Linked DNA regions of Homo sapiens. The protein of the gene in region 1 interacts with the protein of each later gene in a biochemical or structural test. Each region holds a gene or a part of one and is shown in the gene's direction. Other genes may lie near its edges.

Evidence for each region. Proteins that work in one complex are often made in the same cells at the same time.
Region 2: the proteins of CNKSR2 (region 1) and SMURF2 form a complex in vitro, tested with the Homo sapiens proteins (one study listed by BioGRID).

Annotation. Positions count from the first base shown.
Region 1 is NC_000023.11:21,650,418-21,655,189, forward strand, and holds the end of CNKSR2 (connector enhancer of kinase suppressor of ras 2), read left to right. Parts: intron 1-1,888; coding exon 1,889-2,104; 3' UTR 2,105-4,272; downstream 4,273-4,772.
Region 2 is NC_000017.11:64,541,782-64,547,358, reverse strand, and holds the end of SMURF2 (E3 ubiquitin-protein ligase SMURF2), read left to right. Parts: intron 1-1,020; coding exon 1,021-1,096; intron 1,097-1,411; coding exon 1,412-1,511; 3' UTR 1,512-5,077; downstream 5,078-5,577. UniProt on the Homo sapiens protein: E3 ubiquitin-protein ligase which accepts ubiquitin from an E2 ubiquitin-conjugating enzyme in the form of a thioester and then directly transfers the ubiquitin to targeted substrates.

The DNA of each region.
Region 1 (4,772 bases):
GCCTGTCGGGGGGTGGGGGGCTAGGGGAGGGATAGCATTAGGAGAACTACCTAATGTAGATGATGGGTTGATGGGTGCAGCAAACCACCATGGCACGTGTATACATATGTAACAAACGTGCACATTCTACACATGTATCCCAGACTTAAAGTATAATTAAAAAAAAAAAGAACTATCATACAGAGTATGTGCTGTAGTAATTTCAGGAAACAGAAGGTCAGAGGGCTCCTTTGGGAAATATTTCAGATCCATAGCATGCTGCTGAGGTTTTGTAATTTTGAAATATAGGTGAGTACCAAAGAGACAGACAAACTAGAAAATGACCTGAAAAAATTTCAGATAGCAAGCAGCAAAGTTTTCAGACTCCATTAGCTTTTAATTGGTAGTCATGCAAATACTACTGCAAATCCAGGGGACAATTTAATGGACTTTTGGGAAGAGCAGAATTTTTAGAGAGTGCTGTTAATAGTCGTAAGAATAGTTGCAGTGACTAATCCTACTCCAAAGATATCATCACCCTCCCACCTTATAGAGCCTCTCCACTTCCCCCATTCAGTTCTAAACTGCCTGGTTTAGAAGGCAGGCAGGCATTTTGAAGCAGGTTAGATTCATGGATCTTAAAGACCTGTTTCTCTCCTTCTATCTCACAGCCCCTTTTCCCTGTCTTTTATGCTCTGTAGAGTCCCCCAGGGTATTTTCTTCCAGTGACAAAATATATGGCTACTGCCAATGTTCAGTTCACTAAGTATTGATGAATCACCAGGTACATGAATGCTCCACTCGATTCTCTGGGACCAAGAAAGATAACGAAAAGTCACTGTAAAAAATGTCCCTCATTGGTACAAATGAACTACAGAACCCTATGGTTTTTGGCATGGAAAATTAATAGGGAATGAATTCCTTCATTAGGGAAGCATAGCTGGCCAAGCAACCCTGGATGTGTCTATTTCCTGGAATTTTAACAGTCCCCCTCACCAAGCACAGATCTCAGATCCCACCACAGGCAACTCACAACATCCTCAGTCCCAGCCCTCTTCCATATTCTGGTCTGTGAGGCCAGACCAACTTCTTAACCACCTTACTGTTTTCTTTGCCTCCCAACTCTGGCTGGCCCAGAGGTGTATGCCTTACTTCCTGCAGAACATTTTCTACACTTCCCTAAGCTTTACTTGGGTCAGGACTGAGCTGCTCAGACTTTCTTAACCCCTACTTCTCCATCCCACCTTCCACCTGGGAAATTCTCATCTTCCCCAGGTGATAGTTTTAACTTGGTGAGTTATACCAAAATGAAGCTCAGTCTTCAGCTGAGACCCAGCTTCCAACATGGAAGGGAGAGCCATTCTCCATTACAGGCCCCCAGTGCTACAGAAAGGGAGCCATAACATTCACACAGCAAGAATTATGTATTTGTGGTAACAGGGGGGCCATGCTCAGTCTCATTCAAGTATGAGAAGCTTACCATAAAGCAGGAGAAATAGAACACATGCAAAAGTAACTCAAGAAATAGAATATGACAAATGTACTCAGTGGCACTGATGGAGTAGTAAAGGGGCATAAATGAGGGAGAAAACTTTTCTGAGTGTTTAAGCACAGCTTGAAGAAATGAGAGGCTTTTGAACTGGATCTTAAAGAACGAAAAAGGTTTCCATAGCAGAGATGGGCAAAAGGACAGGCAAAGAGAAAAAGCAAACCACACAGTGGGCAAAAGGAGGCGTTCCTCGGGTGTAGAAAAAAGTACACTAGGACGTGAGTCTAAAGAGCTGGGTGGGTGTGAGTATCCAAAGCCATCTCCTATGGGCTTCTTAAATGTTTTGCCTATTAACTTTTTATTTTAAACTTGAATAAAACTTTGTCCCTGTCTTAATTGTTGAATCCTTTTTCTTTTCAGGCCAGAGAAGGGGAAGTAGCCATTATCGATAAAGTCCTAGACAATCCAGACTTGACATCTAAAGAATTCCAACAATGGAAGCAGATGTACCTCGACCTTTTCTTGGATATCTGTCAAAATACCACCTCAAATGACCCACTGAGTATTTCTTCTGAAGTAGATGTAATCACTTCCTCTCTAGCACACACTCATTCATACATTGAAACGCATGTCTAAATGTATTCTGCCTTCAGACCATCTAGTACCTGCTGGTACTCTGAACAAGTATATAAGGTAGTTTTTATATCAATGTGTGGAACACTTGACAAGCTATACTTTAATGTTACCAAACTATATGAAACAAACCATATATGGTCACAATACCACTATCTTTAATGAGCATTTGTATATTTTATATGCAACAGTGCTCAGCTTATGTTTACCATGTGCAAAATCAACTGTCTTTAATGACTTAAAATTAACTTTTGCAAACAATTCTAAATACAGGTGGTCTTCAAGTAGTAAAACCACAAAAGGCAGTTTTCTATCTATGGTCATCTTTTCTCCCTTTAAGTTAATTTTATATAAACAAGACTTCAAAAGTAAATCACATTTTTTCAGGTGCAGACATCCTTGTGGGTGGGAAAGAATTTAAACCTTTTTTATATTTATTAAAATGTTCTAAGAATTTTCTTAAACATTGCACAAAGTTTAATGCTGTAGTTTTATTTTTGTGAAATGTAGATGCGCATACAAGAGCTAAGCAAAATAGAAGAGCATCGACATAAGAAAAGTTCAGGTATCTAATATTCGTCTTAATAGTCTATTAACTTGTGAAAGCTAAGTTAATGGAAATATTATTCCAAATCTATGAGAACACTTGGTGTATCAGGGCAAAGCTTTGTAAGATGTTTTTGTAACTAAGACCAAAATTGAAGATAGAGCTGCTTTATTTTCTTGGTTTAAATCTTCCTTTATTTTTGTAGTGATGAGATGCTGATTGTGTACAGAAGAATTTGAGAGGGGATTTTTAAAAACTGACTTAACACACCCAGAAAGGCAGCTAACAGCTATATATATATATAAATTTCAGCCCAAACTCATGTTTTTAAACTCCAACTCTTAAAAGACAACAAGGTATAAACTGAAATGAATCAACTTTCCACTTAGTTTCCAATTTTCCCCTAGTCCACTAATTAAACTTAGGTAATTATACTTCAGGTAGGGAAGTACAATATGTTTAGTTTCAGGCTGATGTGTGTTATAAAAAACAACACTGAAAAATAAAAATGTACTTCCCTTCTAAGGAGCAAGCAGGTGATGGTCATTCAAAGAGATGTCACATTGAATTATGAGAGAAACAATTTAGAGGTTTTTTTCCTGGCTTCATGAATTGTTCTATAGAGTGGATGAAGTCTAAGGAAAAGTCCTCTTCATATATTTCCATTTATAAGCGTCTTGTTTTTGAAAGTGATCACAGCATGAAAATGACTGTGCTGCTTTTTAGTGTCTGGCTGCATAATGTACAAGTCACAATTTGCTGTTTTTTTCAGGAGGAGAAAGGGAACCTCCTTTACTATTCTATATCCTAAAATCTACTTCTAATCAGCTTTATACTGTTGCCTGTACAGCTCAGTGAATGTACTTTCATCTTTAAGAGTTCAGATATATGCCAGTGAATATTTTTGCTGTAGAGGAGAAAGTAAAAACTCCACAGCGGGGATCTTTTTCTTTGCTTTTGAAACCACCATTGAATCACTATCGTTTTGCAGACTTTGCACAACTGTACAGGAGAGTGGCCTTTCTACAGCACATTTTCAGTAATCCTATATTTAGTCAAAATGGATGAGAAATCATGTATTAATGTTTGTATGGAATTTTGGGTCCAGTGTAATATTTTTATCATTTAAAAAGAACTCTATTTGTAAAAACATTTATTTACTGCATGGATATTGACGCACATTAAATTTGTGGGATTTTGTATATGTAAAAAAAAAAAAAAAAAAAAAACAAAAAACCTCTTGTCCTAAAATGAAGTGTGCTTGTTAACAGGTGTTTAGACTTATTGATGTTTACTAGACCAAATGTGTATGTTCACTTAAAAATATATGTACCTGATGGATGTGTCATGTTTACAGTGGCCAGGTTGTGGCCTGTAAACAGCAAGCAGTTGACGGGAAGACTAGCTCTGTTGCTACTAAGCAGCTTTTACTTTTGTAAAGTCAGCTCTGTTGTTTTAAATGGTAAAAATTAAACTAATGAATTTGACAAGACTCGTGGCTAGCCTAGCATGAAAGAGACCTTTTAACACTATATAATATCTGTACATTTTATTGCATTCGTTTCAAATCTAGGAGAGAGGCAGCACTGTAAACTGAAGTCAAATAAATTCAGCTCTTAATGAATCCTTATAAAGCACCTACTTTATTCATGCAAAGTCCTTACCACATTTCTTTGTGACCTAATTATACAGCCACCACCCCCCACCCTAGTTTCGAGTTCTAACTTTGCTGCCTCATTGGTGATACAAGCCAAAAGCAGCACCTGTTCAGTATATACAAGTGTCTTATCTAAGACCCTGAAAAATCAAGCTCGTTTCCCATTTACCTGAGACGAAGTTTAAAACTTTACCTATTCCTCTTTCCTTTCTCTGTGATTCTTTTGGGGGAAGTGGGGGTAACCACCAAAAATTGATTTTTTTTTACAAATATAATCTACAGTATGTCTGCAGAATGAACATTTAAAAGAGTATGAAAGAAATCAGTTTTTGTTTTGTTTTGGTTAGACATTCCACTTAACCAGAGGATCCTGATTATTATGGCTAAGGGTTGATGAAATGTGACTTAAAACCAGTGAGCTGTCTAAAGTCAGGGCAAAAGCAGCCTAGGGTGACACCGGTGACAGA
Region 2 (5,577 bases), on another chromosome or scaffold:
CTCTGCCTTTGTTTTCTGGTCACCTTACTTTTAATTCTGTTGCACATTCCTGTAGGGAAGTCGTTCACTTCCATGTTCACATCTTGACCTGGTGAAACGTTTACCTGCCTGGGATGCCTCTCCCCTCTACTTTTCGTTCTTTCTCTTATTAGACAGAAGCAGCATGGGTCATGGAAACCATCTGTTCGGTCAGAGCATTTTAATTACTGCATGGCATCAGACCATTTGTTTACAACCATATTCCTTTTTTAAGAATGGTTTTCTGTGGAATAAGCTGGTTAATTTTGGGAGGAGCTGGTAATATTGCTAATGATTGTGGTGCTTCACTGGGTGGCAGTTGCTTCCTTTACCTCTTAAGCACTTCATTTTCAAAGCTGCTGGTGATGAATAAGGACACACAAAGCGACACTGGTACATAATTCGACAGTGCTGCCCACAGCGCATGCGCTGAAATCCCTGGGGGGAGAGCGTGCTTTCAGCTGTGCTGCCCTTCTCTGTAAGGAGAGCTCCTCATCCTCACACTTCCCAGATGCATAAAGTGAAGTTGTATTTCTGCTACATGTATTTATATGGGGTGCCTGTGCGAACTGAAATGGATTCTATAGACGGCTCTTTTGCTGTCAGCCCAGTTTGAGTCATGAAATCTAAATTTGCATCAGGTCGTCATCTTTTTGAATGTGTGCCTATGTATTTTACCTTGGATTTGCCTGATTACTTTTCTTCTCATGCTTTTGGGATATTGACTTTCTATAAAAGATAGAAATTGAGAAAGGGATTTCAATCTTGAGTTTTTTCTCAAATGGAAATGTGAACCTATTACGGAATCTAAGCCTTATCCAAGGTTAATTCTGGCTCTTAAAACCCAGATGCTTTTCCTGCTGCCCTTTGGTAGTATGTGTGGATTCATTAGCATTCCCCTATCCCCAGATCCTGTGGTTAACTTACCAGTTTTATTCTTAAGATTTTGGAGACTAATGCACGCACCTGCAGTGATTTCATCCACATTTCCTTCATTTGCAGGTGCTGCAGGCCCGAGACTCTTTACCATACACCAGATTGATGCCTGCACTAACAACCTGCCGAAAGCCCACACTTGGTAAGGTATTTTTGTAGCTGTATTCCCCATTCCATGTACATAAGTGTTAGTTCCAAACAGATTTGACTTTTTATTTATTGTACTTACTAGTGTTAAATGGGCCTTTAAAGGGAATGATAAGCAACTTAAGTGATTTAAAAGTTAAGATTATTCGGAAATTGGTAGGAAAACCCAAAAGTGGTCATCTCTGTTTTAGAGAAATACCTTTTAGTTTTCTGTGTGACACAGAGTGATGTGGCTATACTGGTATACACTTGCTAGGCCAGTTTACTTATTTTGAATGAACTGTATAAAATTTGATTTGCTTATTCACAGCTTCAATCGAATAGACATTCCACCCTATGAAAGCTATGAAAAGCTATATGAAAAGCTGCTAACAGCCATTGAAGAAACATGTGGATTTGCTGTGGAATGACAAGCTTCAAGGATTTACCCAGGACTCTATTTATACAACCCTGACTGACAGCCTCCTTTCAGCAGAGTTTCAAAGAATATGCTGAAATACAGGAAAACACTCCCCCCCCCCCCCTTTTTTTTTTTTTTTTTACATTTTAGGACACTGTGAGGGGAAAGGACAATTTTGAAATTCCTTTTCAAGGAAAAAAAAGGTCTTTATGCTTTGCCATGAGGCCACATTCAGCTGCTATTTAAACTTAATATCTTGAACCTAAAGAATGCTGACTTTTCCTACATTTCCAGAGTTAGGCAGTATTCTACACTTAAAGACTACTACTATTTTTATAAAAGGTAATCTATTCAAATTTCTTCACAGATTTCAAGTCTCTCAAACATCAAGACAACTTCAGCAGTCGGTACAAGTCACATTTCATTTTGATTGAATACATGATCTTGAACAGCTCCTGTACTTGCTCTTTGTAAAAAAAAATAAAATTATTTTGAATTATTCTACCTTTGTAAACAATTGGCTAAAAGAATCATCTTTAAGAAATTAAGCCATTTACATGTTTGTGTTTTTCTATAGCAGAGCATTATATTTTGCATTATATGTTTCAACCTAGTCTAAGTGGGTCTTTTTTACATTTTTCAAGAACGGATTTCCTGGAATACAGCGATATAATTTTGGTTGTCAAATTCCTAATGCAACCATTTAGTCTAAACTTAGTCATTTATTTGTGACAATAAGATGTGTTCAGGGGCTCCCTGTTTTTAAGAGACTCTTTTAAAAAAAAAAAAACCTAATGTTTTTATCTTGAGTCAATATGATTAGGTATTTTGGATTTACTTTTAATCTTAAAATACTGCATTTTTATAGCTTCTCAGAGCATGTGGATGGGATGGGATTTTCGTTATTTTGCTGGGTCAGCTTATCTTTAATATATGGACTATTCCTATAAACCAAAGTCTCTGACAAGTGCACCTAATTTATATTGTATTTTAACTACAGTGTAAGTTTCCATTAACAAAACCATCCTAAAGCGTTAACTGCTCATAATTTTAATCAGCTACAGTTATGAAAAAGGAAGAATTTTGCTCTAAAGATTATTAATAAGCTTAGAAAATCCTGCTTTTACCTAACAGAATGAAGTGGGGTTGAGGGGCGGTAGTATGAACAGTGATTCTAACTCTATGGCGTAAATTACTTTGAAGAGTTCATTTTGGAAGTAAGGGAATCCCGCTTCCCTTGGTGTTGAAGATCTGCATCTGATTTTGAAACGTCCAGATTTAGCTTTCAAGGTGCGTGCATGTTGAATGATCCAGAAGCAACGAAAACTCTGGGGTGAGGGATTGAAAAAATCTGAAATCACAGTTGGATTTTTAAATTCAACCATCAAAAATATGTACTATCAGTTTTTTTTTACATTGATGTGAAATAAGCAAATTTTCATGATAATTAAGCTGCAAAATTTAAAGTTATCAAGTAAATAGGTCCTCTGTGTTCTGTTTCATGTGATGGAGTGGGTTTCAGTCTGTGTTCTTGGAGCCAAAGGGTTCCTCAGGGGTGCCTCAGGAGTAATGGTTTAAGAGAAGAGGGGCAATGAGAGGGAGCGAGGGGGAAGGCCTAGTTGGTATTTGAGCAGGGGCCTTAGGCTCCATATCCCCACCCCCTTTACCCAGAACAGCCCATTTTTCTTATGTATATTGGAATTTCAAGTAAGCTTTCATGGGGTGCAGTGGGGCGGGGAGGAATGGATGGGATAAAAAAAGTGGAGATTTTGCTGCTTTAAAAAAGTTGAGAACTACTTGTGTAGTTTTTAAGTATTTTAATGTATTTCATTTGGCCAAATTCAACTGCCACAAGCAAGCTAGTCATAGTTGTAACTGTGCAGTGGTAATATGCTTATGCCTACCTTTTTCCTCTCAAACAATTTGTTTTTTTTACATTGCATTCTGAGTACTGAAGAGCATCTTGAAATGTATGGAAGTGGTTTCTATGCTATTTGATAATCAGTAATGTTCAGCTGTCATGATAGTACTTTACTGGTTGCAGACCCATCTCTCTTTTATATTAAAGCACTAGTGCAGTTTATAATTGTGCCTACTTTTAAAATCTTTCAGTAAAAAAGTACATAATGAATACAGAAATCATAACTGACAGGGATACAGTAATAATGAAATGCTACTATCACTTATTTTAATATACAATATAAAGCAGGCAAATACCATTGCTTTTTGAGTGCCTTTTTAACTTTATACTAATGACTTAATAGAGCTTTAAAAGAAAGAAATTGGCTGGGCATGGTGGCTCACACCTGTAATCCCAGCACTTTGGGAGGCCGAGGTGGGCGGATCACCTGAGGTCAGGAGTTCGAGACCAGCCTGGCCAACGTGGTGAAACCCTGTCTCTACTAAAAATACAAAATTTAGCCGGGCATGGTGGCGCACTCCTGTAATCCAACTACTTGGGAGGCTGAGGCAGGAGAATTGCTTGAATCTGGGAGGCAGAGATTGCAGTGAGCCGAGATCGCACCACTGCACTCCAGCCTGGGCGACAAGAGTGAGACTCCGTCCCCGCCCAAAAAAAAAAAAAAAAGAAATTACTCTCCATAACAGTCTATGTTATCACCAACATATATAAAAACATGATTTAGATTTCCATTTCAAAGTTACATTACCCGATTACTTCCAAATAGGTGCTAAGCAAAAACCCCCAATGTATTATTGAACCATGGACTTGCACCTCATGTTTAATGTGAATATTTATTTCCATGTCCCTCTTAACTGGTTTTTTCTTGTCTTCCCTCTAGCTGTATTGTTATTTCAGATATGTGATATCTGTTTTCATACTCTTGCCTTTCCATCATGAATGCTTAGTTATGAACAGAGATTCCTTTGTAGAGCTCATAGGCAGTACAGAGAGGTAAGTCTTGCCTCAGAGGGCCTTGTATCTTGGTGTAGTTTTTAAATAGTGCATAGTGTATAGTGTATAGTGTACATTTTGTTTTGCACATAGTTTGTTGCCCCGAATGGGTTTTTTACCAAGCCTTTTTTTCTTTCATGTATTTACAGTCCGGAGCACAAGATTCTCTTCTTTCAAATACAATGTAATTCGCTTTACTTTACAACACTAAATCTGGGCTTTGAATTTCCAGTGCATTGGACTGATTGGATTGTTGGGAGTTAGAGGCTGTTCCAACCATCCTTAGTTTGGGAGAGTGGCTCCTTCTGCTTGTTTTCTAAGCGTACAGTCAACGGGTGCCATTTGTGGTATTTAACATGTTAGGATGATTGTTCCAAATGCTGAGTTGTTTTATTTCTAGATGTAATTAGTTCACTTTATGTAATATTCTTCTCTCAGACTGACTTTAAAAACAAAGTTTTATCATTTTCATTGTATTTGTATTTATTACAGAGTGTTTTAGCTTTGATATTCTTTGTATTTTCATTCATTTGTTACATGAGCTTTATCAGTAACATCTGTATAAATGGTTTTTAAAAATTAACTATGTATGTGCCCATGCCGAAGTCGAGCAATAAAATCAATGCTGTTTGCACTGTCACAGCATCAACGTTTTTAAAGAATATTGAGTTTGTAATGAATCGTTTTGAAAACATTTATGGTTGGCTCTATGGAGGGTGACAACATGAGTCACAAAATGAAAAGTTCAAGAACACATGCCATCCTGAGTTGATGCCTCTGTCATGTTGCAGAGCTCAGCTTTCTGTCTCCTCGCAGAGCAGGGAAGGTGCCCGTTTTCTCCGGCCGTGGTGACTGCTCAGTTGGTAGTACCTGTTGGGGGTACCGCATAGGTGGATTTCTGAGGGGGGTCAGGGGCTAGTGGGGAAGAGCATCTTGGTCCTGTCACCAGTCTGCAACCATCTTTGCTATAATACATCTCCGCTCTGTAGGGCAGGCCTATGACAGGGGCTCATATTTGCCAGCCCTACCTTGGTATGTCGAGCAGTAAAATTCTCAAAATGAAAAGGAGAAATCAATTGTATTTTTTCTAGAAGCTGTGGATTTTAAGGTTTATAATTCACTACTGTATTAATGATAGTGGACTAAAGTCCAGCTAACTCTA